6 separate regions of the Homo sapiens genome follow, and all the other regions are linked to region 6. The links come from fine-mapping of genetic effects on gene expression. A gene starts in region 6. Each other region holds a variant in brackets. All regions are shown on one strand. Distances are from middle to middle.

Region 1 (4,091 bases), 27 kb after region 6:
CATATCCACGGGTTCCGGGATTACAATAACATCTTTGGGGGACAATTATTTTTTTTCTATGACACCCTCTAATGATGTCCCCTAAGAGAGGCCAGATGGTTACTCCTTCATTAAGAGGTGGAGAAATCGGCCAACAAGGGGAAGGGGAGGGTCTTTACAGAGTGCTGAGGGGTGGGCCTCTGCACTGACGGGCAGAGGTGGGAATACTGTAGCTCAGAAGGGTCCTGAAGTCCCAGGGTGGCAGAGCTAGAGACAGAACCAAAGCGAGCATGGCGACCAGGAGTTTTGTTTTTGTTTTTGTTTCTTGAGATGGAGTCTCGCTCTGTCGCCCAGGCTGGAGTGGAGTGGCGCAATCTTGGCTCGCTGCAAGCTCCGCCTCCCAGGTTCACGCCATTCTCCTGTCTCAGCCTCCCAAGCAGCTGGGACTACAGGCGCCCGCCACCACACCTGGCAATTTTTTGTATTTTTAGTGGAGACGGGGTTTCACCATGTTAGCCAGGATGGTCTCGATCTCATGATCTCGTGATCCACCCGCCTCAGCCTCCCAAAGTGCTGGGATTACAGGCGTGAGCCACCGCGCCCGGCTGGTGACCAGAAGTTTCTGAGGAACCAAAAAGTTTCTTGGGCAACAGCCTATTTGCAGAGATGAGCATAAGGTACATAGATATGACCTAGATCTCAGAAATACGCTCAAGAGACAAAACTACCCTTGGCTGTTGGGAGAGAGAGAGGCAAAGTTCTGTTAGACTTGTTTCCCAGCCTATATTCCATGAGTGCTCAGAAGAAAAGGGATTGAAAATAAACAACAATGATCAAAATCAGCAACCAAAATAAGGCAAGAATGACTTTGAGAGGTTTCCTTCTTTGCTTTGGCTTTTTTACTTTTGGGAAATGGAACAAAGTCTAGGATTTTTGGGAAAAGTATTAAAGAAGCATTGGTGCTCCAGACTTGGAGGCTGGCTATGGTGGTCAAAGGCAGCACAGCACCAGTGCCGTGGCCTCTGTGTCCTTGTGGTGACATGGTTGGGTGTAGGGGCATGATCAGTGGCAGTTACAGGAGAAGACAAAATACCCTCCAAAGACTTATAGGAATAGGTATGGGGGATGCATATTTTTAGGAGGACAGAGATTATGCAAAAAAGGGAAAATATTATCTTCAGAAAAATGCTGATACTATTAACTAACATTTATCACTTTTTATGTGCCAGCCTTGTGCTCAGCACTTTACATGCATTTTATTTATTTATTTACTCTTTTTTGAGACGGAGTCTCGCTCTGCCACCCAGGCTGGGGTGCTGTGGCGAAATCTCTCTCGGCTCACTGCAAGCTCCACCTCCTGGGTTTCATGCCGTTCTCCTGCCTCAGCCTCCCGAGTAGCTGGGACTACAGGCGCCCGCCACCACGCCCGGCTAATTTTTTGTATTTTTAGTAGAGACAGGGTTTCACCGTGTTAGCCGGGATGGGCTCTATCTCCTGACCTGGTGTTCCGCCCACCTTAGTCTCCCAAAGTGCTGGGATTACAGGCGTGAGCCACCGTGCCCACCCTACATGCATTTTATAACTTCATCATTTTCTCAACTTGTGGGGAGGAGGTAAGGGAGGCTTAGGAAAGTTAGGTAATCTGCGTGGTTATCTTTAGGTGGGAAGTGGGGGTGCAGAGACCACCACAGGGTCCTTCCGTACAAAGTTTGGCAACTTCACGGCAGGCCACCCTAGAAATGTGCCGCATGGGTACTCTGTGACTTGTAAGGCTTCTGAAAACCAACTTATACTCCACGTGGAAACTGAGGCTTGCTAAGGTGAAATAACTTACCAGAGGTCACATGGGTTCTTATTTCAGAACTGGGACAAGAATCTAGGTTTCTGACTTCCAGCCCAGCGTTGTTTTGGTGACAATATACTGTCTGATTGTAGAATCACTCAAGAGGGGA[G/A]CAAAGCTCAGGAAATGAGATCAGCCCAGTCTCCATGTGATGAAGCAGATCACAGATCCTCCCCGGATACACGTTTACCCCAAGATGAGAGCAGGCTAAGAGCTGAGAGTGGTATGCCCCTTCATGCCCTCCCACCAGCCTCACATACCACACAGAGCACATTTCTGACTAGCTTCTGTCACATTTGACACCCACCCTGGGGACCTGAGAGTCACCCAAGGGAATGAATGAAGCAGAGCTACAAATATTCAAATGGGTAAATTTCACAATGTAATATTGAGAAGACACTCGTAAGTTAAGGTGAGTGTGTACAACATGATAAAACATACATAAAGTTTAAGAAATGTTAAACAAGGCTCTACATTTTTGAGGATATATGCATATATAGCTTAAGTATAAAAAATGTGGAGTAATGCTAATCTTCAAATTCAGGGAGTGGCTTCTTGGGTGGAAGTTGGGGGTGGCGAGTGGAAGCACAGAAGGGTGAGGGGTATAGGATGACACCACCTTGAACTCATGATGAAGAGCTTGGCTCTTTCCCGGCAGTTTTATTCAATGCTCCAAAGGCCATTTTCGGTGTTGGGAGCAGTAGGGGTAGGGAGAGGGGTGGAAAATCTTGGCCTTGGCCCAGCTATGTCTAGATAAACTGGAAATTTGCCCTGACAGCTCTTTTCCTCTATTGTGCAAGGCAGGGCCAAGTGATGTCATTGGGACATGCAGATGTCTCTGTCCTCTTCTTTGACTAGTGCCAAGAAAAATGATCTTTGCAATGAACTGATGCTCCTTCCCCCAACTCAGATTCAGCTGTCTTATCATTTCTAAACCTGTGGCCACAGGCTAGATCCCTGGAAACTCAAGAAATGCTTTCCTTGAGGGAAATCATGCCCTGCTGCTTTCTGCTTTAAAACAGAGTGCTGGCTTATCTCCAGGATAGTGGAAAAGCTGTTGGCATCTCAGTTATGTTACAAGGGGCACACACAAAAAGCAAATTAATTGCTTCCTTCCTACCTTCTTTTATTCATTTATGTATTCATTCATTTAAGGAAAGAATATTGATTGAACATCTACTCAAGAACTGCAAAACAGAGATTACCTGACCTAAAGGTAAGTATTGGCAACAGAGGAGACAAACTTGGGAGCAGGCAGCTATAGCACAACACGGTGCAGCCATACCTAGGAGAGGGAGACGGGAGTCCCAGGAAGGATCACCTAACACAGCCTGGAGAAGAGCTGAGAGGGGAAAGCCTTAGAAAAAGGGCCACATGAGATAAGTCTTTAACAGTAAGTGGGAGTTAACCAGATGGAAAATGGGCAGCAGCAATTTTGGACAGAGCAGCAGGTGGAAAGTCAAGGGGCCATGAGAAAGCAGGATGCTTGTGGGAACTGCTGGAGACGGATGGTGGTGAGTGGATGGGATTCTAATCAGGACCATGTTTGTCCTCAATTTCTCCAGGGTGGCATGCACACAACAGCAAAAATGCCTATGTATTCCACGCTGGGCACTGTACTAGGAGTTTCACACATATGATCACATTTCATCTTCATTTTACAACCAAGGAAGTGGTCTAGGCTAGACTTGACCCTGAGTTGCCATCTCCTTGTATTTGCCCTTGACACTGTTACTACATGGAATTATAAGATCCACTCTGCTTACCACACATCTGTTGTGATGGTCAAATGATGCAAAGTATGTGAAAGCACTCACAGAACTACAAAATGCTTCATGTATAAAGTCTTGTTTCAACAATACAGGTCTTTTAGTGGAAAACTAGAATTAATAATGCTGTACTGATAATTTCCACTGTATTTCTAGTTGGTGTGAGGTCAGGGATCTGAGGTAGCAGAGAAAGGAGGGAGGCAATTTACACTCGGGGAATATATTTTTAAATGTCCCCTTGCACAAAAGTCATTTAGTTATGTGCAAGATCATCTTTAGCAGATTTATTAATTTGTGATCTTTATTTTGGGAAATTCAAATTATAGTGAATTCCCACCCATGCTTATTATGTAGCAGAAATCGTGCATGTCATCAAGGGCAGGGGAGGGAATCTCAGGGACTGGGAAGGGTGATTGGACATAGTACCTTCTAAACTCATATTAATAAAATAAAGTTATCAAATGAAGCCCAGGGTTGGGAAGGACTTATATGTGGAAATTCTT
Region 2 (4,091 bases), 21 kb after region 6:
ACTGAACCGCCTCCTCAGTGATATTGTATCAGTTGCTCCGCTGCTGATTGGAGTTGAAATCATTGTAAGGGATGGAAGACACCAGGAGGTAGAACTTAAGAGGTAGAACTCCCCATGAAACCTTCATTCATGGCTAACCCCAATAATTTAGCAGCGACTTTTCTTAGCTTGGATTTCCCCCCAAGAAAGCAGAACTTGAGATAAGAACTCTTATAGAAACAATTTACTTTGAGAAGTGATCTGAGAGAACAGGAATGGGGAACTGAGGAGAGTGAGGAGGGAAAGTGGGAATTCCAGCCGGTTTATAGATGCATTATTAGCTGGTTATGGCTGTGGGATCAACCCCAGGGAGGACTGTATTAGTCTGTTTTCACACTGCTGATAAAGATATACCTGAGACTGGGTAATTTATAAAGAAAAAGAGGTTTAATGGACTCACAGTTCCACGTGGCTGGAAAGGCCTCACAATCATGGTGGAGGGCAAAAGGCATGTCTTACATGGTGGCAGACAAGAGAGAATGAGAGCCAAACAAAAAGGGAAACCCCTTATAAAACCATCAGATCCTATGAGACTTATTCACTACCATGATTCAAGTATCTCCCACTGGGTCCCTCCCACAACACGTGGGAATTATGGGAGCTACAGTTCAAGATGAGATTTGGGTGGGGACACAGAGCCAAACCATATCAAGGGCAATCTGAGGAATGGTGTAGGATGTTCCTCAGCACTGTCCACCCAAGACACAGAAATGGAGTATTTCCCTGTTGGCTCTCAGCCCACTGGTCAAGGGCTGCCCCAGCAATTAGCCCACTGGCAGCATGGCTGGGCTGGTTCCTACAGAGATTCCTCACCACAGGAGCAGGACTGCCCCCAGATAGAAGGCAAAAGAGACAGCAGGAAACTGAAGTGAGGTGTTGTGAGGTTCACTTGTGCACAGGTGGTTCCTACAGCAGTGGCTGGAGCAAGACTGATGGGGCATAAATGCTGCCTGACACAATGTGCTTTCCCATAAGCTCATATAGGATCTCAGAATCCTTCTCAATGCAGCGCTCCTGGGAGCTATTATGAGCTCGTTGGAGTTGGCATATGCAAAATTAAGCAAACAATTTGCCAGCTCCAGAAGAGATGATTAAAAACAGTACTGGAGCAAGTTCTTGCATAAGCCTGTGTGAAAGTTACCAAGCATGGTTGATTGAACGGGTACTTTAAAACTTGTGGATTTCCTGTTTGGGTACTCAAGGGAGTCAGCACTAATTCTGGGAAGGTAGTGAAACATTGCCGTCTTTATACGACCAGGTAATGAAGCCAGGCCAGGGCGGTGGTCTTGCTAGGGGGACAGGTGCCATTCACAAGGAGGCTGCTGGTGCCTCAAGAGTCCCTTGCTGGATTCGCAGGCTCTGCATGGCAGCCACCTGAGAACACAGAGCATCTCAAGGGGTTTGAAGAGTTTGTGAGAATTGATTAAACATTTAAATTGGTGTTACATCCATTGATTAGATGTACATCAATTTACTCTCTTTATCCTTGGAATCTTTATCTCCCCAGTTAACACATACTACAAGCGTAGGCTACTAATTTCTTGATTACTCAGAGAAATTATCCAGTTGATAAATCGTATCTGTGAGAAATATAAAAGAGAAACAGATGAATAACAAAATTGATTATTCAGGATAACTAACATCTGTCCTCAAAAATAGTAGTTGAGATGCATGATGGGGTGTCCTTTAAATTAGTAGTCCCCAACCGTTTCAGCACCAGGGACTGGTTTCATGGAAGATAATTTTTCCATGGATGGGGTGGAGACAGGGATGGTTTCAGGATGATCCAAGTGCATTACATTTATTATGCACTTTATTTCTATTGTTATTACATTGTAATATATAATAAAATAATTCTA[C/T]GACTCACCATAAAGTAGAATCAGTGGGAGCCCTGAGCTTGTTTTCCTGCAACTAGACAGCCCCATCTGGGGGTGATGGGAGACAGTGACAGATCATCAGGCCTTAGATTCTCATAAGAAGCTTACAACCCAGATCCTTCGCACACACAGTTCACGATAGGGTTCATGCTCCTGTGAGAATCTAATGCCATCACTGATCTGATAGGGGGCGAAGCTCAGATGGTAATGTGGGCCACGGAGAGCGGCTGTGAACACAGATGAAGTTTGGCTTGCTGGCCCGCCACTCACCTTCTGCTGTGAAGCCTGGTTTCTACCAGGCCATGGAATGCTACATGTCTGTAGGCCAGAGGTTAGGGATCCCTGCTTTAAATACTCATCAATGAGGTGTTTCAAAGAGAATTCGTCCCTGGAACTGTGTATTTGGTAACTAGCATAAGAAGACCTGCCGGTAGATTACAAGTTAATCCATAGCACAGCACAGAAGGAAGCCTTTAATTAGAGACAGAGATATATTCAGCCACCGGTGTTGATCTTATCGTTCTGGGGAAAGCTCGTGGCAGTCACAAAATGTTGAAGACCCTGAGGCTGATGTGATGTGTGGCCAGATCTGCAAAATTGAGAGAAAACTTGAATATTTATTTATTTATTTATTTATTCTGAATTATCCTCATTGGTTTTTAAAAATGCACAGGTTTACTTTGAAAGCATTATTTGGCTTCCAGGCCAAATAGGAAAAAGGGGGCATTTTTTAACCTTGGTTTGGGTTTGGGGGCTTAGAGACAGTTTCTCTTTTAAGATATACAAACCTCCAATATACCTGCAAATAAGTGAGACCAAAACATTGTTTCTTCCTGTGAGTTGAAAAAAAATCTGGTGGGTTTACAGTGGGAGGAAATGATTTCTGGCTGCATGTGATGTAGGAAATGTGAAGACTGCTTCTGTACCCCATAACTGCTATGATTAAATAATGGCCTTTCTCTGCTTGGTTTTAAGATTTGGAGGTGACTTGATGATTTCAGTGTAGAAAAACAGTGCATAGTCTAAAAATGCTTATGGGAAAGTGGAAAAAGGCGTAGAGAAAATAAGAACAGTCTTAGTCACTAGAGAATCTGTGCAAACACGAGCTGCTTGGGGCTTCTCAGAGATGGCTACTTTTGTATCAATCACAAGGCTCCATATGCTCAATTTGTCAGAAACTCACCCAATCCCAGACTCATGCACATATGCACATCCCAGTTTCAATGTTTTATTACTTTATTTCATGTTAAGTGATTATTCTGCACAAATTTTCTCAGGAAGTAATTGTACACAATTCTAGGAGTTAAAGGTAGACATAAATAAGAGTAAAATCCTTTGATCTACAAGTGTTAATTAATTGTGCATAACTAAGCATTATCATGTGAAGATGGATGGAAGTTTCGTAGACCAGACATTTTTCATGCAGCTGTGATCAGTGAGTTTCTCCAGTAGCAAAGACAAACAATTTGTGTATGCAAACCAGTACAGCTAACAATGTCTTAATTGTTGTTATTTAAAAGAGGAGCAATTAATTAGCATTCATATAGCATACTAGCTTTCACTTAGTTAATTGTATAGATCCAAATTCCAAAATAAAAACAATGTGTATATGGCTCTCATTTGCCAAATTCAACATAAGCTGAGAATTTGTAAATTGAGAAGCTTGTCAGAGGGAATTCCCCTCTGGTGGGAATAATTCCTCTCTCACTAGTTAGTTCTCCCATTAGAGACCTTGACTATGGTGTAGAAATCTTTTTTCTCCATTTCTGAAATAAAATAGGAGAACTTTAAACAATAAGATAAAAGTAACTATGAAGAAAAATCCAACACACAAAAAGGTAACAATGGAGCACAATTCGAAGTTCAAATTCCTGATCCGCATAACATCTGAGCTGAGTTTGAATTGCCTCCCTCACTTGCCAAACAACTGGTCCTGCATTCTTCTCAAGGCTCTGACTCCCAGCTCATCTGCCAAGAAGTCTCTGGCATGTCCAGAGCTCACGAATGCAGCTGTTGGGCTTGGATTACCCTCACTGCATGATTTTCCAGATAGTCCCTTGGTGGTACTTCCTTGAGGAATCCCCACGGGAGTGGGCAGACACTGCGGATTGGTTTCAACTGCCTTCTTGGAGTAGAGGCTGGAATATTAAAAATGACATCTCCTAGATTCCCTTG
Region 3 (4,091 bases), 50 kb after region 6:
TTCCCAGCTTCAACACTCTTCCCCTAAGAGGCAGAGAATCCTAGCACAGTAAGGGGTCTTAATGTTCTGGTCAACCCTTCTTGCCCACACTAGTCATGGAAGTCTTTGTTGAAATGCCCCCAGTGAAAGGAGGTTCATTTCCACCCAAGGTAGCTCATTCAATTTTGCCACAACTGTGTGTGTGTGTGCGTGTGTGTAAATGTGTGGGTGCATGTGTGTATGTGTGTGTTGGTCCATGTGTGTGTGGCTTCCTCCACCCATTAATTGTAATTCTAGCAGTTGGGGCCATGAAGAAAAATGCAACAACTCTTCTGGGCAGGAGGCTTTTAGATGACTGAGTACTCTTTTGACATGTTTCTTTATTTCTTTACCATCGATCTCTTTCCTCCAGGATTAGCATAATCAGTTCTTGTTTTTTTTTTTTTGTTTTTTTTTTTTTATTTCTCTGAGAGGGACTCTTGGTCTATCAGCCAGGCTGGAGTGCCGTGGTGTGATCTGGGCTCACTGCAACCTCTGCCTCCCAGGATCAAGCGATTCTCCTGCCTCAGCCTCCCAAGTAAGTGGGATTACAGGCATGTGCCACCACGCCTGGTTAATTTTTGTATTTTTATTAGAGATGGGGTTTCACCATGTTGGCCAGGCTAATCTCAGACTCCTGATTTCAAGTGATCTGCCCACCTCAGCCTCCCAAAGTGCTGGGATTACAGGCGTGAGCCACCACACCTGGCCATTGCTTTTGTCTTCTTGCAGCTATCAGTGTGTACTCCAATGCTTCATAAATTTGAGTAAAATGCAGATTCCTTAAAATAAATCACAATATTATGCTCTCTCTCTCTCTTCCCCTCTCTTTCTATATATATATATATATATATATATATATATATATATATATATATATATATCTGATTACTGACTGAATTAGTTTTTATTATTTAAACCTAAGATTTAAAACCCTTCTGTTCATAGTCCTTAAACATGAAACTTAAAAATTAAGATTAAGTGTAGAATTAGCAATTTAACAGGACAGATTAAAATGTGTTTTACTGAAGCCAAATTATTTTCAATGTGAAGATACTACTACTATCATATAGCATGCATTTACATTGTTTATTGATTCCTTGTTATAACCCAATTCTCCTACCATTTGTTCTGTATATAAAATGAGGATACAAAATGTATTGTCTCCTCAAAGGGTTAGTGTGAGACTTGCACGAAATCATGCATATCAAGCACAATGCTTATTGCAGGATAATGGTCAAAAATGGCAGATATTATTACTATAATTGTTATTGCTGGTGCTACGTTATCATTGGTGCTTTGTCTGCTTGCAGATTCGAATGGAATACAATAAAACCTTGCTGACAAACATCTTTCAAGTTTAGGTCTAGTTTCCAGTCCCCATCATGACTTTTAAAATTTGCTCTGAAAATTCCTGGTCATGACTCTTTCTAAATTAAACAGACTTTCAAGTTGCATATTAAAACGTGGGTCACCTCAGGGCAAGCTAGAAAGCCAGGGAGGAGTTATAATGATGTATAAAGGACATTCCATGTTGCATCTTCCTCTACTTCTCTGAAAGAGCTCAAAATTAATGTTCAGAATCAAGAAAATACTACGGACCTGTCTTCAATATCGTGGCTGCCCCAAGATAGATAAAGTTTTGATTTTCTTTGTCTTTGAATGTAATACATGGTAGTTCCTTGAAGGTTAATGAACTGCTCACAGAGTTTTGGTATAATAAATCTTTACACAAACTTTCATGCGCGTCCGTGTGAAGAGACCACCAAACAGGCTTTGTGTGAGCAACATGGCTGTTTATTTCACCTGGGTGCAGGCAGGCTGAGTCCGAAAAGAGAGTCAGTGAAGGGAGATAGGGGTGGGGCCGTTTTATAGGATTTGGGTAGGTAAAGGAAAATTACAGTCAAAGGGGGTTTGTTCTCTGGCGGGCAGGAGTGGGGGTCGCAAGGTG[T/C]TCAGTGGGGGTGCTTTTTGAGCCAGGATGAGCCAGGAAAAGGACTTTCACAAGGTAATGTCATCACTTAAGGCAAGGACTGGCCATTTGCACTTCTTTTGCGGTGGAATGTCATCAGTTAAGGTGGGGCAGGGCATATTCACTTCTTTTGTGATTCTTCAGTTACTTCAGGCCATCTGGGCATATACGTGCAAGTCACAGGGGATGTGATGGCTTGGCTTGGGCTCAGAGGCCTGACATTCCTGCCTTCTGATATTAATAAGAAAAATAAAACAAAATAATGTTGAAGTGTTGGGGCAGCGAAAATTTTTGGGGGGTGGTATGGAGAGAGAATGGGCGATGTTTCTGAGGGCTGTTTCAAGCGGGATTAGGGGTGGCTTGGGAACCTAGAGTGGGAGAGATTAAGCTGAAGGGAGGTCTTGTGGTAAGGGGTGATATTGTGGGGATGTTAGAAGAAACATTTGTCATATAGAATGATTGGTGATGGCCTAGATACGGTTTTGGATGAATTGAGAAACTAAATGGAATAACAGAAGGAGAAAAACAGGTATAAAATGTCTAAGAATTGGGATGACTCAGGATATCTGATTAGAGAGTGCCTAAGGAGATTCAGCATAGTCCTGCCAGCAAAGATTATTTATTTACTTCAAGAGTTAAGAGTGGCAGTTTGGGGATAGCACCAGGAGATATCAGCTGTGATGGCTTGGAAAAACAGTGTAAACCAGCAGTGTAAACAAGAGCAGGGCATGTATGAGTAGTTGAGAACGGTGAATAGGAGTATGACTAGACAGAAGATAGTAGGGATGACAAGTTTTTTGGGGCACAGTCCAAGTTGGTCTGGTGTCTGGAATGAGACTGGGGCCTAATAAAAAGGAGCGTCTATACAAGAGCTTAAATGGGCTGTACCCTGTAGCATTCTAAGGACAGGCCTGAATTCTGAGAAGGGAAAGTGGTAAAAGTATTGTCCAGTCCTTTTTAAGTTGGTGGCTGAGCTTGGTGAGGTGTGTTTTTAATAGACCATTAGTCCTTTCTACTTTTCTTGAAGATGGAGGACCGTAAGGGATATAAAGGTTTCACTGAATACTAAGAGCCTGAAAAACTGCTTGGCTCATTTGACTAATGAAGGCTCATCTGTTATCAGACTGTATTGAGGTGGGAAGGCTAAACTGAGGAATTATGTCTGACAGAATGGAAGAAATGACTGCGGTGGCCTTCTCAGACCCTGTAGGAAAGGCTTGTACCTATCCAGTGAAAGTGTCTACCTAGACCAAGAGATATGTTAGTTTTCTGACTCAGGGCATGTGGAGTAAAGCTAATTTGCCAGTCCTGGGTGGGGCAATTCCTCGAGCTTGATGTGTGGGGAAGGGAGGAGGCCTGAATAATCCCTGAGGAGTAGTAGAATAGCAGATGGAACACTGAGAAGTTATTTCCTTGAGGATAGATTTCCACGATGGAAAAGAAATGAGAGGTTCTAAGAGGTGGGCTAGTGGCTTGTACTATAGCAAAACCTGCCTTTGCTGGTGTGTGGCGATTAGGCCTGGTGGAACCGCCATCAATAAATCAAGCATGATCAGGGTGAGGAATAGGAAAGAAGGAAATTTGGGGAAACGGGGTGAATGTCAGGTGGATCAGAGAGATAGTCATGGGGGTCAGGTGTGGTATCAGGAATAATGTGGGAGGCCGGATTGAAGTCTGGGCCAGGAACAATGGTAATTGTGGGAGGCTCAACAAAGTGTGAGTATAGCTGAAGGAGCCAGGAAGCAGAAAGTATATCCATCAGGTATGAGGAAGAAAATAGATTTTGGAAGTTAGGAGAACTGTAGAGAATGAGTTGAGCACAGTTTGTGATTTTGAGGGCCTCTAAAAGTACTAAAGCAGTGGCAGCCGCTGCATGCAGACATGAGGGCTAGGCTAAAACAGTAAGGTCAAGTTGTTTGGACAGAAAGCCTACAGGGTGTTGTCCTGGCTCTTGTGTAAGAATTCTGACCGCGCTAACCATGCCTAGGAAGGAAAGGAGTTGTCGTTTTGTAGAAGGTGCTTGGGTTTGAGAGATCAGTCGGACACGATTGGCAGGGAGAGCACGTGTGTTTTTATGAGAATTATGCAGAGATAGGTAACAGAT
Region 4 (4,091 bases), 34 kb after region 6:
TTTTTTTTAACAAATGGTGCATGAACAACTGGATATCTACATGCAAAAGAAAACAGCTGGACCCTTCCTCACATAATATGCAATTATTAACTCAAAATGGACCAAACACCTAAATGTGAGAGTTAAAACTGTAAAAATCTTAGAAGAAAACATAGGGGTAAATCTTTGAGACTCTGGATTAGGCAATGTTTTATTAAATACAATGCCAAATGCACAAACAACAAAAGGAAAAAAAATGGAACTTCAAAAATGAAAACATGTGCTTCAAAAGATATCATCAAGAAAGTGGAAAAACAACCAAGAGACTTGAAGAATATATTTGCAAATCATATATCTGATAAAGGACTTGTGTCTAGAATATATAAATAACACAACTCACTAATTAAAAAAAAAACACCAAGTCAACCATTTAAAAAAATGGGCAAAAGATCTAAATACACATTTTCCAACGTAGATATAAAAATAACCTGTACATACATGAAAGGATGTTCAACCTCATTAGTCATCAGAAAAATGCCAGTGAAAACCACAACCACTTCACACCCACTAGGATGGCTGTAATTTTTTTTAAAAAAAACAGATATAATAAGTGTTGATGAGAATGCAGAGAAATTAGAACTTTTATTCATTGCTGATGGGAATGTAAGAATGGTTTAGTCACTTTGAAAAACAGTCTGGCAGTTCCTCAAAAGGTTAAACACAGAGTTAACATATGACCCAGCACTTCTACTCATAGGCATATACCCAAAAGAAATGAAACATATGTCCACACAACGACTTGTACATGAATGACCACAGCAGCATTGTTCATAATAGCTAAAAGCTGGAAATAACCCAAATGCCCGCCATGTGATTAATAGATAAGCAAAATGTGGTAGATCTATACAGTGAAATATTATTTGGCAATAAAAAGGAATGGAATACTGATATATACTACAACATGGCTGAACTTTGCAAACATACTCTGTGAAAGAAGCCAGTCATAAAAGATCACATGATATATAATTCAATTTATATGAAATATCCAGAATAGATAAATCTCTAGAGACAGAAAGTGGATTACTGGTTTCTTAGGGCTGGAAGGAGGGCTGGGGGGATTAGAGAGTGATGGGTAGTGGGTACAGGTTTCTTTCTGGGGTGATGAAATATTCCAAAACAGATTGTGTTAAAAACCACCACATTGTATACTTTAAATGAATTATTTGCATGGTATGTAAATTATATCTCAATAAAGTTGTTACAATGAATACATATTCTTGTAGCAAAAAATAAAAGATGAGATAGTGAAATGCACAAAATGCTACTAAAAGGTGGTGTAAAATCAGGATACAAATATCCAACATATTTGGTAACACGCAAGAGAGCGGTCACTTTGATAAGAGCTGGTAGAGCAGGCTTACCTGAAAAGCCTCTAAGAATTTCCAGGCCATGAAGAGTGTTTATTGGAGATTTATCAACATGAGTTCAAAATGAGACCAATCTGTGAACTAGAGCAGACCCCAAATATTGGTCTGGGTGAAAAAATCGACAAAAATAAGGACTTGGGCTTGCCTAATGTTGCTTTCACTAGGTTTTACCATGTACTTAGCAAGAAAGTAAAGGAGACATTTAAAATATGAACATTTTGTAATGGGGTAAGGGATCATTGTTCTCTGATCCCTTACCTGTTCCTGCTATAGATGAATCCAGGATTCGGTGGTGCCTGTTCCAGGAACCTTTAGTGTGAAGGATCCTCCAGGTGAGAGAAGCCTTTATGTCTTCTGAAATGGTTCTGCTGTGTCCCCACCCAAATCTTGTATTGAAGCTCCCATAATTCCCG[C/T]GTGCTGTGGGAGGGACCCAGTGGGAGATAATTGAATCATGGAGGCAGTTTCCCCCATACTGTTCTTGTGGTAGTGAATAAATCTCACCAGATCTGATGATTTTATAAGAGGTTTCCCCTTTCACTTGGCTCTCTCATTCTCTCTTGCCTGCCGCCATATAAGATGTGCCTTTTGCCTTCCACCATGATTGTGAGGCCTCCCCAGCCACACAGAACTGTGAGTCCATTAAACCTCTTTTTCTTTATACATCAGCCAGTCTTGGGTATGTCTTTATCAGCAGCATGAAAACAGACTAATCCACCTTCTTTGGGCTTGATGGGTGGGGATAGGGAGAGGTGGAGATAACCTGCCTCACTGAGACCTATCATCTGGGTTCTAAGTGCATAATTCCTTGCTGGCCCCAGATACTGAACCAAGTTCTCCTGTGTTTAATTTCTTGCCTTTCCTTCGTGTCTACTCGAAGTTTCATGGCATCAGACGAATCTCTGCCCCAGCGGGGTCATATGAATTTCTTCTGAAACACTCAAATGCATAGGGCAATGAGAGAGTGGAGCATCAGCAGGCTGACATCTGTTCTTTAAGAACTCTTTAGCAGAAATAGTCAGACATAAATGTGCATGCTCATTTAAGCTACGCTCTAGGACACAGTTTCTCTAATGGCATCTTGTGAGATGTCACTGGTGATTCTGCAAGGGAGTGTGAATGAAAAAGTAAACCCTAATTAAAAAAATTTTTTTTGCAGTAGGTTACTGGGGGTACAGGTGATGTTTGGTTACAGTTCTTTAGTGGTGATTTGTGAGATTTTGATGCACCCATCACCCGAGCAGTATACACTGCACCCTATTTGCAGTCTTTTATCCCTTGACCCCTCCCACCCTTTCCCCCAAGTCTCCAAAGTCCATTGTATCATCCTTATGCCTTTGTGTCCTCACAGCTTAGCTACCACATATCAGTGAGAACATACAATGTTTGCTTTTCCATTCCTGAGTTACTTCACTTAGAATAATAGTCTCCAATCTCATCTGGGTCACTGCAAATGCCGTTCATTCATTCCTTTTTATGGCTGAGAAGTATTCCATTGTATATTTCTACCACAGTTTCTTTATCCACTTGTTGATTAATAGGCATTTGGGTTGGTTCCACAATTTTGTGATTGTGAATTGTGCTGCTATAAATCTGCAAGTATCTTTCTCGTATAATGACTTTTCGTATGAATCTGCAAGTATCTTTTTCTTATAATGACTTCTTTTCCTCTGGGTAGATGCCCAGTAATGCGATTGCTGGATCAAATGGTAGTTCCATTTTAGTTCTTTAAGGAATCTCCACAGTGTTTTCTATAGTGGCCATACTAGTTTACATTCCCACCAGCAATTAGAAGTGTTCCCTGATCACTGCATCCACGCCAACATCTACTGTTTTTTGATTTTTTGATTATGGCCATTCTTGCAGGAGTAAGTTGGTATCACATTACGGATAAACCCCAGTTTTTGAACTTCACATACTGCACAATGCTGGTGATGTAGCAGCCCTGTTGGGATTTTGTTAGGGATCCTTAATCCTTGTTGTGTTGCTGTGAACAGGACTGTGTTTATTTGCAGGAGTCCATTCTCAATTTTCTGTGCAAATTGGGGAAGGCTGTTGATAATCGGTGGATGCTATAGTGCCCATGGAAAGACTCTAGTCTGAAGATACCAGTCTCTCCCTCCCAAGATCACCTCCCCTGACCAACCTTCTGCACTCCTGACAGATACAAGGGAGCAAGCAAGTTGCACCCAACCTAATAGTAAATTGCAGGGACATTTCCATTCTAAGGAAGGAATTTTTGTGTGTGTTGCAACTCAGCTTCTGCTCTGGCATTTTGCTGTGGTAAGCATTGCAAGGCAAGGTTTATATAGGTTAGAAGAGAATTTTATTGTGACATTTTCTTTTTTTTTTTTTTTTGCAATTTCTGTTCAAGTATTTATTATGCCCTCTGTGTTATCATTTATTAGCATTTATATTGCCAATCATGTTGGAGAGTCCATGTGGTGATTTCTGAAAACGAGATGTGAGAAAGAAGAGGATAATTTAAGTCTAGACCTACAGATTGTGCTGATAAAGTGATGAAGAACTACAATCTTCTTAGTCATTTCATTGTATAAGTGCAATAAAGGGTATGTAATAAATTTGTATGTTCATATTTACAACGGAAACTGCTTATCAATGAATTTCACGGGGCATTTGTGTCTTGCCAGATTTTGTGTCTTTCCTGGCAAACAACTTGTGACCACA
Region 5 (4,091 bases), 110 kb before region 6:
AGAGCACTCTCCTGTGACCAGCTAGGCTTATCTTCTCTGGAGCTCCATTTCCTTTGCTGCAAAATGAGGGGATCTGACTTGATAACCTCTACCACCCCTCCCTACTCTAAAATTCTTGATCCATGGAGTCTGTCATTATAAGGAAAACAAAAGAACATAACAAATCATTAGTTGTCAATGGAATATTACTGAGCAATGAAAAATGAGTTCTCAAGCCACAGAAAGAAAAGAAGAACCCTTAAATGCATATTCTTAAGTGAAAGAAGCCTATCTGAAAAGGCTACAACCTGAATAGTCTCCCTCTTGTCTGGTTTCTCCATCTCTGGCTCAAGCATTTCCCATGATTCTCATCCCTTACACTCTGCAGTCATAATGAGCTTCCATCTTCTGAAAACTCTTTCTGGAAGATTTCTGTATCACCACTGAATCTGCCTATCCACCACTCACTCCTTCACACTGTATTGTCTGTTCCTCCTCCATGACACATTCCACACTCAGTTTTTGATTGTCAACTCTTCACCACATTAAATATATGATCCTTTCTCTCTTGAAATTCTTTCCTCTCCTGTCCTCCGATACTCCTAACTCCTCTGTTCCTCTTCTTACCACCCCAAGGGATCCTCCCTATCACCTTTCCCCCCTGCTCTTCCTCCTACTTTGTAAAAGAGGGCTTTTCTGTGGTTTAGCACTTGAATTTCTGCAGTACGTTGATTCTGACGCTCATATATTCCCACAGTTTCCCCTGAAGAGTCCCATGCGTGTCACCTCCTCAGGATGGGAACTGTAATCACCTCAAATACAACGTAATGTTGGGTCTAATAAGGAAACTCCACTCTGCTCCACTTTAGGAAGAAATCGTTGCTAGGAACAACACATATTAAACTGCTCTATGCTATTTATCAGATATTTCTCTAAGACTGGTGGTGGAGAAGAGGTTCCTGAAGTGACAGAAGTTTTAAGGGGGAGAGACAAGGAGATGGAGAAGAACGATTTTGCCATCAAGGATCAAGGCAGAGGCCAAGCGCGGTGGCTCATGCCTATAATCCCAGCATTTTGGGAGCCTGAGGTGGGTGGATCACTAGAGGTCAGGAGTTCAAGACCAGCCTGGCCAATATGGTGAAATCCCATCTCTACCAAAAATACAAAAATTAGCCAGGCATGGTGGCACACACCTGTAACCCCAGCTACTTGGGAGGCTGAGGCAGGAGAATCACTTGAACCCAGGAGGTGGAGGTTGTATTGAGCCGCCTGGGCAACAGAGTGAGACTGTCGCAAAAAAAAAAAAAAATCAAGGCAGAGACCTGATAGCTACAGTGGGTACAAGATCATGTGAACTCTGGGATGAAGGGGAAAATAATGAAACAGGAGGTCAGAGAGGGGTGGGAAGAGGGTTTGTCAAAGATAGACTTCTCCTCTGCAGTTCTATTCGGGACCAGCCTTCCTGGCACCTGAGTTAGCCAGTATGATCTACAGTCAGACCATTTATCTTTCTTTTTCTCTTCCGCTCCCCCCTGTGCCCAGCCCCTGAACATTATCTAGCACTCTACGGGCAAATGAAACAAAAGAAAAGAGCGAAACATGCATCTTGGTATCAAGGAATGTATTATTTACATAGACAAGGTATTATTTAAACAGAACATATGAAAGAAGTCACAGAAGACACCCAGCAGTACAGGAGCAAAATCATCTTTCTGGGTCACGTAAGCTGAGAAGCCTGAGCGTCTGAATGACAAGTAGGATTTAGTGTATCTGAGCGTGATTTATAGAGTAGGTAGTTTGTCAGCAAGGTTTCAAAGGAGGGAGAGTAGGCTGGGCATGGTG[G/A]CTCATGCCTGTGATCCCAGCACTTTGGGAGGCCGAGGTGGGTGGATCACTTGAGGTCAGGAGTTTGAGACCAGCCTGGCCAACATGGTGAAACCCCATCTCTACTAAAATACCAAGAAAAAAAAATTAGCTGGGCGCAGTGGCGCACGCTTGTAATTCCAGCTACTTGGGAGGCTGAGGTAGGAGGATCACTTGAACCCAGGAGATGGAGGTTGCAGTGAGCCGAGATCGTTCCACTGTACTCCAATCTGGGCGACAGAGTGAGACTCCTTCTCAAAACAAACAAACAAACACAACAATGACAACAACAACAACAAAAAACAAAAGAGGGATAGTAGATTCACAGAAGGCATGCACTTTCCTGAGGCACTCTCTTGAAGGAGATGTCAAATGCTCATGTCTTCTGGGAAGCTGGTGACAATACTTTTGGGACTTTGTGAGAATGGCTGACAAAGGAATGGGCAGATAATATGGGCCATGAGCCTGGAAGAATATTACAGAGTCACATCAAGATGAGAACAGATCTGTGAGCTTAAAAAGTGGGCGTGTAGGGGCCGGGCGCGGTGGCTCACGCCCGTAATCCTAGCACTCTGGGAGGCCGAGGTGGGTGTATCACAAGGTCAGGAGATTGAGACTATCCTGGCTAACACGGTGAAACCCCATCTCTACTAAATATACAAAAAATTAGCCAGGCATGGTGGTGGGCGCCTGTAGTCCCAGCTACTTGGGAAGCTGAGGCAGGAGAATGGCGTGAACCCGGGAGGCAGAGCTTGCAGTGAGCCGAGATCGCACCACTGCACTCCAGGCTGGGCGACAGAGCGAGACTCCATCTCAGAAAAAAACAAACAAAAAAAAAGCAGGCATGTAGGAAAGATGCGGCATTTCAGATGCACTGAGTGAGTGTCTTGTTCTTTTAGTCCAAGAATTCCTGAATATGTATTCACTCATTGCCCGTTATTTCCTGTGTATTTGGACGAGAAAACTGTAAGGAAACATTGTGAGTGCAACATTAATTTCCCATAAATTACTGTGTGAAAATAAATAACATTTAAAAGGTGTTAGAATTCCTAAAATGCGTTTTACGCCTTGAGAGAGATGCGACTGTGATCTGAGTCACATATGGTTACAACTTCTGTTTCTCAGATTATAGATTAACTTGCTTCCTTTTTTCTCTTGTTCTGTACAATGACTAGAGAGAATTAAACAATTGTCAGGGACAAACACTTCCTGACTTCTTTTATTCTTTTTTTCTTTTTGAGACGGAGTTTCACTGTTTCGCCCATGCTGGAGTGCAGTGGTGTGGTCTCAGCTCACTGCAACCTCCGCCCCATGGGTTCAAGTGATTATCCTGCCTCAGCCTCCTGAGTAGCTGGGATTATAGGTGCCCACCACCCCGCCTGGCTAATTTTTGTATTTTTAGTGGAGACAGAGTTTCGCCATGTTGGCCAGGCTGGTCTCAAACTCCTGACCCCAAGGTGATCCACCCGCTTCAGCCTCCAAAGTGCTGGGATTACAGGTGTGAGCCACCGTGCCTGGCCGCCTCCTGCCTTTTTAATTAATGAATCTTGTTAAAGATTACCTTTTCCTTTTTTTGTCCTATTTTCCTTAGACCAGATGACAGAAAACCCATGACTATAGCACACTCTGTAAAAGATGTTAAATGTCCCTTTCCCAAAAAGAAACACTGCCTGTAACCAAGTTCCTGGAACTATGCACCAGCCTTGTATGAAAAAATGTAATCCTGCTAAAAATGCCTCTGTCTCTCCCTATGGAAACCCTAAAGTTCCCTCCTTTACAACTCTGACTTCATTCTTTTGGGGTGTTTCCAGGTGGGCCATCCTCAAACTTTGAGTTTGAATAAATGCTCTTTAAATTAGATTCTGGCCTTTTTGATTATTTCAGGTTGACAGCTGTAAATCGACTCATTTTTGTAAATTTGCTATAAAATCTAACATTTGCCAAATCACAGTTTGGTTACATAGCAGGGGAACCTGCAGAATGTCTGAGTGATCCCCAGTTTCTGAAATAACAACGTGTAAGCGTTCTCAGGATCAGAACGCCGCCAGAGGACGTTAAAGAAAAGAGGCTTATCTGTCACTACAGATGGGGGCAGCATGAAAAGTTAATTCTTGTCTTAGTGCAGGGACACGTCTTTGGAAGGATGTGGTTTCCGTGGGTTTTCTTTTCTTTGCTACAATTGTGGTAATTTCCAGGGCTCCTAGCTCAACTGAAAGGTTCATGGATTGCAGCATTTTTGAGAGCTTCAGATG
Region 6 (4,091 bases):
AACAGAGGTAGAAGTTAGCTCCTCAAGTAACAGTTGCCATCCCGAGGCACCACAGCACAAGACAGTAGCGGAAATGAACATGACAACGCGGATGGTGGGTGACAAGAGTCTTGCCTGGATATTGACATTTTTAAAGTGTAGAAGAAAATCGCAGGTCACTGAAACAAAGGCTGATGGTGCCCAGCAGGTTACTCTTGAAATCAGAAACAGAAGTTCATGAGAGGCAAGAAGACAGAAACAACAACTGAAAAACTTAGAGTGGATCGCTAACTTGCAGGAGCTGTGCAGCTTTGGCTTTGCAGGTTTTAGAAGCTCTCCCTACGCCACGTCTTTAAATATATGTATGTTCAATCAGCAGGAGGAAGGGACTAACAAGAGCCTTCTGCGGTAAGCACCTGCATCAAACAATGGCACTGATCTCAGAGGGATTTTAAACAGCTGTGCATAAACTTCAAAAGTAATTTGCAACCATATTAGTAAATGTCACTCTTCTTCCCGCTAGACACAGCACTTTTAAAAGAGATTAAGCATCCGCAGTAAGCCTGCCATTTTACAAGGGTTACCAAAGATAAGTTAGGGAAAATATGAAGATGATGATTCACAAGGTCGGGGTGTGGGGTGGGGTGGGGGACCCAGGACCTTAGGAATAGGGCTTGTCTATCACACAGCCTCGGGCAAGAAGGGCCCAGTGGGGACCATGGCTTCTAGGGAGCAAACCAAGGGAAAAGAGCAACGGAGTGGACCCTCCAGGCTTCTTGCCTCTCTCACGGAGCCTCACGAATCCCAGTGGTTTAGAATTTTCTTTGGCAAAAGAAAAGGTCAAAGAGGCCGGAGTTGACAGAAAGCATGGGCGGACTTCTCAGATCTTGTAGGTGGTTCTTAAAAGAATTCAGCAGGCTTGAGGTGTGCTCTCAAAGGGCAACTGGAACGTCAAGGACTTGGACACCAGGCACAGATGGTTCATTTCCCATGGACAGGAAGAGGGCACGGAGTGCTCCCTCTTCCCTCCACCTTCTCCAGCCTAGTCCCCCTCAGCCTGTGCCACTCCTGAATCATCTTTTATAGCACCACGTCCAGCCCGCACAGGGGCAGGACAGCCCAGGGAACAAGGCAGTCCTGTGGCGCTCTCCTTGCAGAAATGACCGGAGTCTCCCAATCCAGCCAGCCCGTGGACCTCTCTTCATGCCCACGGGGGAGTGCACACGCCTGTAGCATTCAACAGTCACTCTCCCATTGATAACGGTGGCTCTCGAAAATCCAATACCACAAAGATACTTTATTGCACAAACTTTGCTTGGTTAACCTGGCCCTCAAAGCTGGGGAATAACCTCACTTGAGGCTACAGGAATGAGCACGCAGATTTTTCTTTTTTTTTTTTTTTTGGTATCTTTCAAAGACCTGCCTCCCCCTCCCCCAGGCCCTTGACCAGAAACTTGGCTTGTTTAGAAGCCTGAGCAATGGCACCCCCGTCCGTGCTCCAATACATTCCCAGAAAAGGGGTTATGCTCCCCTGTGGACAGGATACCATCTCCAGAAAACATGTTTCCTCACGCATTTTTTTTTTTTTTTTTTACCAAGAATACAAAAACTTTCCACCTTCTTCCCTCCCCGCAGGCCCCCTTTCGTTCAGGTGAGAAGGAAAAGGGAGAAGAAAGGAGGAAGCGCCCCCAGGCCGGCGGCCCCCACCCGGCTAAGGTCGCCAGCATCCCGCATCCCGTGCGACCTGCGTCCCAGAAACCCAGCGGGGAAATTCTTCCCGGTGCGCTCTTGCGCCCGCTTGGTTCCATTTCCTACTCCGCCTGCTCACCCGGCAGCCCTCACCCCTTCCCGGAGGCTCTCCGAGGGGCCCGGGTAGCCCTTCTCGCCACGGGTCTCGGCCCCTCCAGCCCGCTCCCTCCCGGCGGCGGCGCGGGGCGCGGGGCCCTACCTGGAGCGAGCACGGCGCCGCTGCTGCCCGGTGGCGCTGGGACTGCGCGGGGACTGCGCGGGGACTGCGCGGGGACTGGCGGGGCTGGCGGGGCTGGCGGGGCTGGCGGGGCTGGCGGGCCCGGCGCACTGCGGGTGCGCCTAGAAGGCGGTGCCCGCCAGGGGGCGCTCGCCAGCCTCCCCGCCAGCCCGGCCTCCCGGGACCCGGCACCTCTAGCCAGGGACGCGCGCTCGGTCCCCCGCCGTGCGCCCCCGGTCCCGCGCCCAGGCTCCCGCCCCTGGCCTCCTTACCAGCCACTTGTCGCCCAGCTGCGAACTGGAGCGGGAGGCGGCGGCCGGAGGGCCCAGGACAGCCCCGGGAGGGCGGCGAGGCGGAGCAGGAGCGCCCCGGCTCCGGCCACATTCTCAGAGTCAGGAAAAGGGGCGAGAGGCCACATGTCTCCCTCTCGCCCAACTGAAAACGAAACGGCGCTCCAGCAGATTGGGTGGAAAGAGCTGGGTCTCTTTTCTCTGTTTTTCACGCTAGAAAGGGCTTGTAAACATTGTTCCTTTTAAAATGACCTACCCCAGGCATTTGTTTGGGCACACTTCTGTCCTGGGGTCATCGTTCCTAGGTGGCTTCGGACCTGGGACTTTTCCTGTATCTGCACATTGTCGTTTTATACACAATTGCCAAGGTGGGACTGCTTTCAACTTTACTGTGCTTGAAGCTGCAAAGGTAATGTTGCCGCCGTGCGTGTCATTTTAGGACTTTTTATGCCTTGCGGGTAATACTAATGATGGTCACAGGGAGGATAAACGGGGTGGTTTCTTTTTCTATACTCCATGTAACTAATTTCTCATTCAGGTTAGAAAATTATATGTCTGGTTACTAATATTCTTACTGAATGGTTTCCTTGCAATGATGACACCAAATAATTAAAACGTACTTGATTAAGACTTTTGTTGCTGTAGTGTACTAAGATCAGATTAATCTGAGAAGTAAAATAGTAATTTTTTGTCCTTTTTTCTTTTCTTGTTTTGAGAGAGACATTAAAAACGATTAAAACAAAACAAAACAGGCCAGGTGCGGTGGCTCATGCCTGTAATGCCAGCACTTTGGGAGGCTGAGGCGGGTGGATCGCTTGAGGCTGGGAGTTTGAGACCAGCCTGGCCAACATGGCAAAATCGTGTCTCTCCTAAAAATACAAAAATTAGCTGGGTGTTGTGGCACGTGCCAGTAATCCCAGCTACTCAGAAGGCTGAGGCAGGAGAATCGTTTGAACCTGGGAGGAGGAGGTTGCAGTGAGCTGAGATCTCACCACTGCACTGCAGTCTGGGTGACAGCAAAACTCTGCCTCAAAAAAAAAAAAGGTTTAACAAAAGCCAAAAGTTGAATTAGCAGCCTTCTGATCATGGGAATGTAGGATGTCAACTAAAAAGAACCTCAGAGGTTGGGAAGGCAGATGAAAAACTGAGGCCCCGAAGTGTTTCAAGACTTGATTAAATCACTCAGGTCTGCACTAGGAAGCGAGTTATGATGATGCCCCTAATCTATATGAACCCAAATAAAGCCAAAACACACACACCTTTTAAGGATAAAACTATATTCCATTAAAATTAGCCCCGCATTTGTCAATATCTAACAGCATTGGACTGACCCTCAGGCCAGAGGCTGTAGCTCTTGGAAGATCCTAGCCAGGAGGTTTGAGAGTGGCCAGTACCTCGGAAGTGCTGGCTCACTCTGACATCATCAGAACCTGGCATACAGTAGGCGCTCATTGGGTATTTGCTATGGAAATTAGGCAGGAAAGTGCGTCTGTGTCTGGAAACAAAGAGGCAAAGCTTAAGCAGTGATCCCCATGCAGATTCTTTCTGCAAACTACAAAACAGAAGCTTCCCTAGTTCAGACTGCCATCCATCTGGCTCTTTCTCCAATTGTTTTTCAGCGGATCCTGTTACAGTGCAAAGAAGAAATGGCAAACGGATAACAGCTACTGTGCCTAGAAGATGGTAGATTCCTCACGCTCCATATCTGGGTTTCTCATTGACAATTAGGCACTGAAAGGAAGCTCATATGTCCTGTTAATTTAATCAGTAGTTAGTGGCTTTAGAAAAAGTTTCATATATACACCAGGTATGATAAGGACTTTTTTTTTTCTTTTTGAGACAGAGTCTTGCTGTGT

Alleles and levels. Alleles are on the strand shown, and positions count from the first base shown. SD is a standard deviation of normalised expression in the study named. Not every link is listed here.
With allele A in place of G in region 5, the expression in skeletal muscle of the gene that starts at base 2,142 in region 6 is higher (small effect, 0.15 SD a copy in GTEx).

The links. PIP is the estimated chance that this variant, and not a neighbour inherited with it, causes the effect.
Region 1: its variant is fine-mapped to the expression of PRKCQ-AS1 in whole blood (TOPMed, PIP above 0.99).
Region 2: its variant is fine-mapped to the expression of PRKCQ-AS1 in whole blood (TOPMed, PIP 0.99).
Region 3: its variant is fine-mapped to the expression of PRKCQ-AS1 in iPS cells (iPSCORE, PIP 0.95).
Region 4: its variant is fine-mapped to the expression of PRKCQ-AS1 in whole blood (INTERVAL, PIP 0.98).
Region 5: its variant is fine-mapped to the expression of PRKCQ-AS1 in skeletal muscle (GTEx, PIP above 0.99).

Annotation. Positions count from the first base shown.
Region 1 is chr10:6,605,374-6,609,464 of GRCh38, forward strand. No RefSeq gene overlaps it. Among named protein-coding and RNA genes, the nearest start is that of LINC02648, 11 kb to the right of the region's middle. The variant G/A (reference allele first, on the strand shown) is at 1,932.
Region 2 is chr10:6,599,454-6,603,544 of GRCh38, forward strand. No RefSeq gene overlaps it. Among named protein-coding and RNA genes, the nearest start is that of LINC02648, 17 kb to the right of the region's middle. The variant C/T (reference allele first, on the strand shown) is at 1,899.
Region 3 is chr10:6,627,822-6,631,912 of GRCh38, forward strand. LINC02648 (long intergenic non-protein coding RNA 2648) reads left to right here. Exons shown (of 6, transcript NR_120634.1): 5 at 1-556. Among named protein-coding and RNA genes, the nearest start is that of LINC02648, 11 kb to the left of the region's middle. RefSeq lists an enhancer at 1,928-2,499. The variant T/C (reference allele first, on the strand shown) is at 1,970.
Region 4 is chr10:6,611,952-6,616,042 of GRCh38, forward strand. No RefSeq gene overlaps it. Among named protein-coding and RNA genes, the nearest start is that of LINC02648, 4.7 kb to the right of the region's middle. The variant C/T (reference allele first, on the strand shown) is at 1,820.
Region 5 is chr10:6,469,654-6,473,744 of GRCh38, forward strand. The region is part of intron 12 of PRKCQ (protein kinase C theta); the gene reads right to left. Among named protein-coding and RNA genes, the nearest start is that of PRKCQ, 110 kb to the right of the region's middle. The variant G/A (reference allele first, on the strand shown) is at 1,822.
Region 6 is chr10:6,578,284-6,582,374 of GRCh38, forward strand. It overlaps PRKCQ-AS1 (PRKCQ antisense RNA 1), which reads left to right and starts at 2,142. Exons shown (of 2, transcript NR_036503.1): 1 at 2,142-2,644. PRKCQ (protein kinase C theta) reads right to left here and starts at 1,993. Exons shown (of 18, transcript NM_006257.5): 1 at 1,928-1,993. RefSeq lists silencers at 1,995-2,244, 2,255-2,404.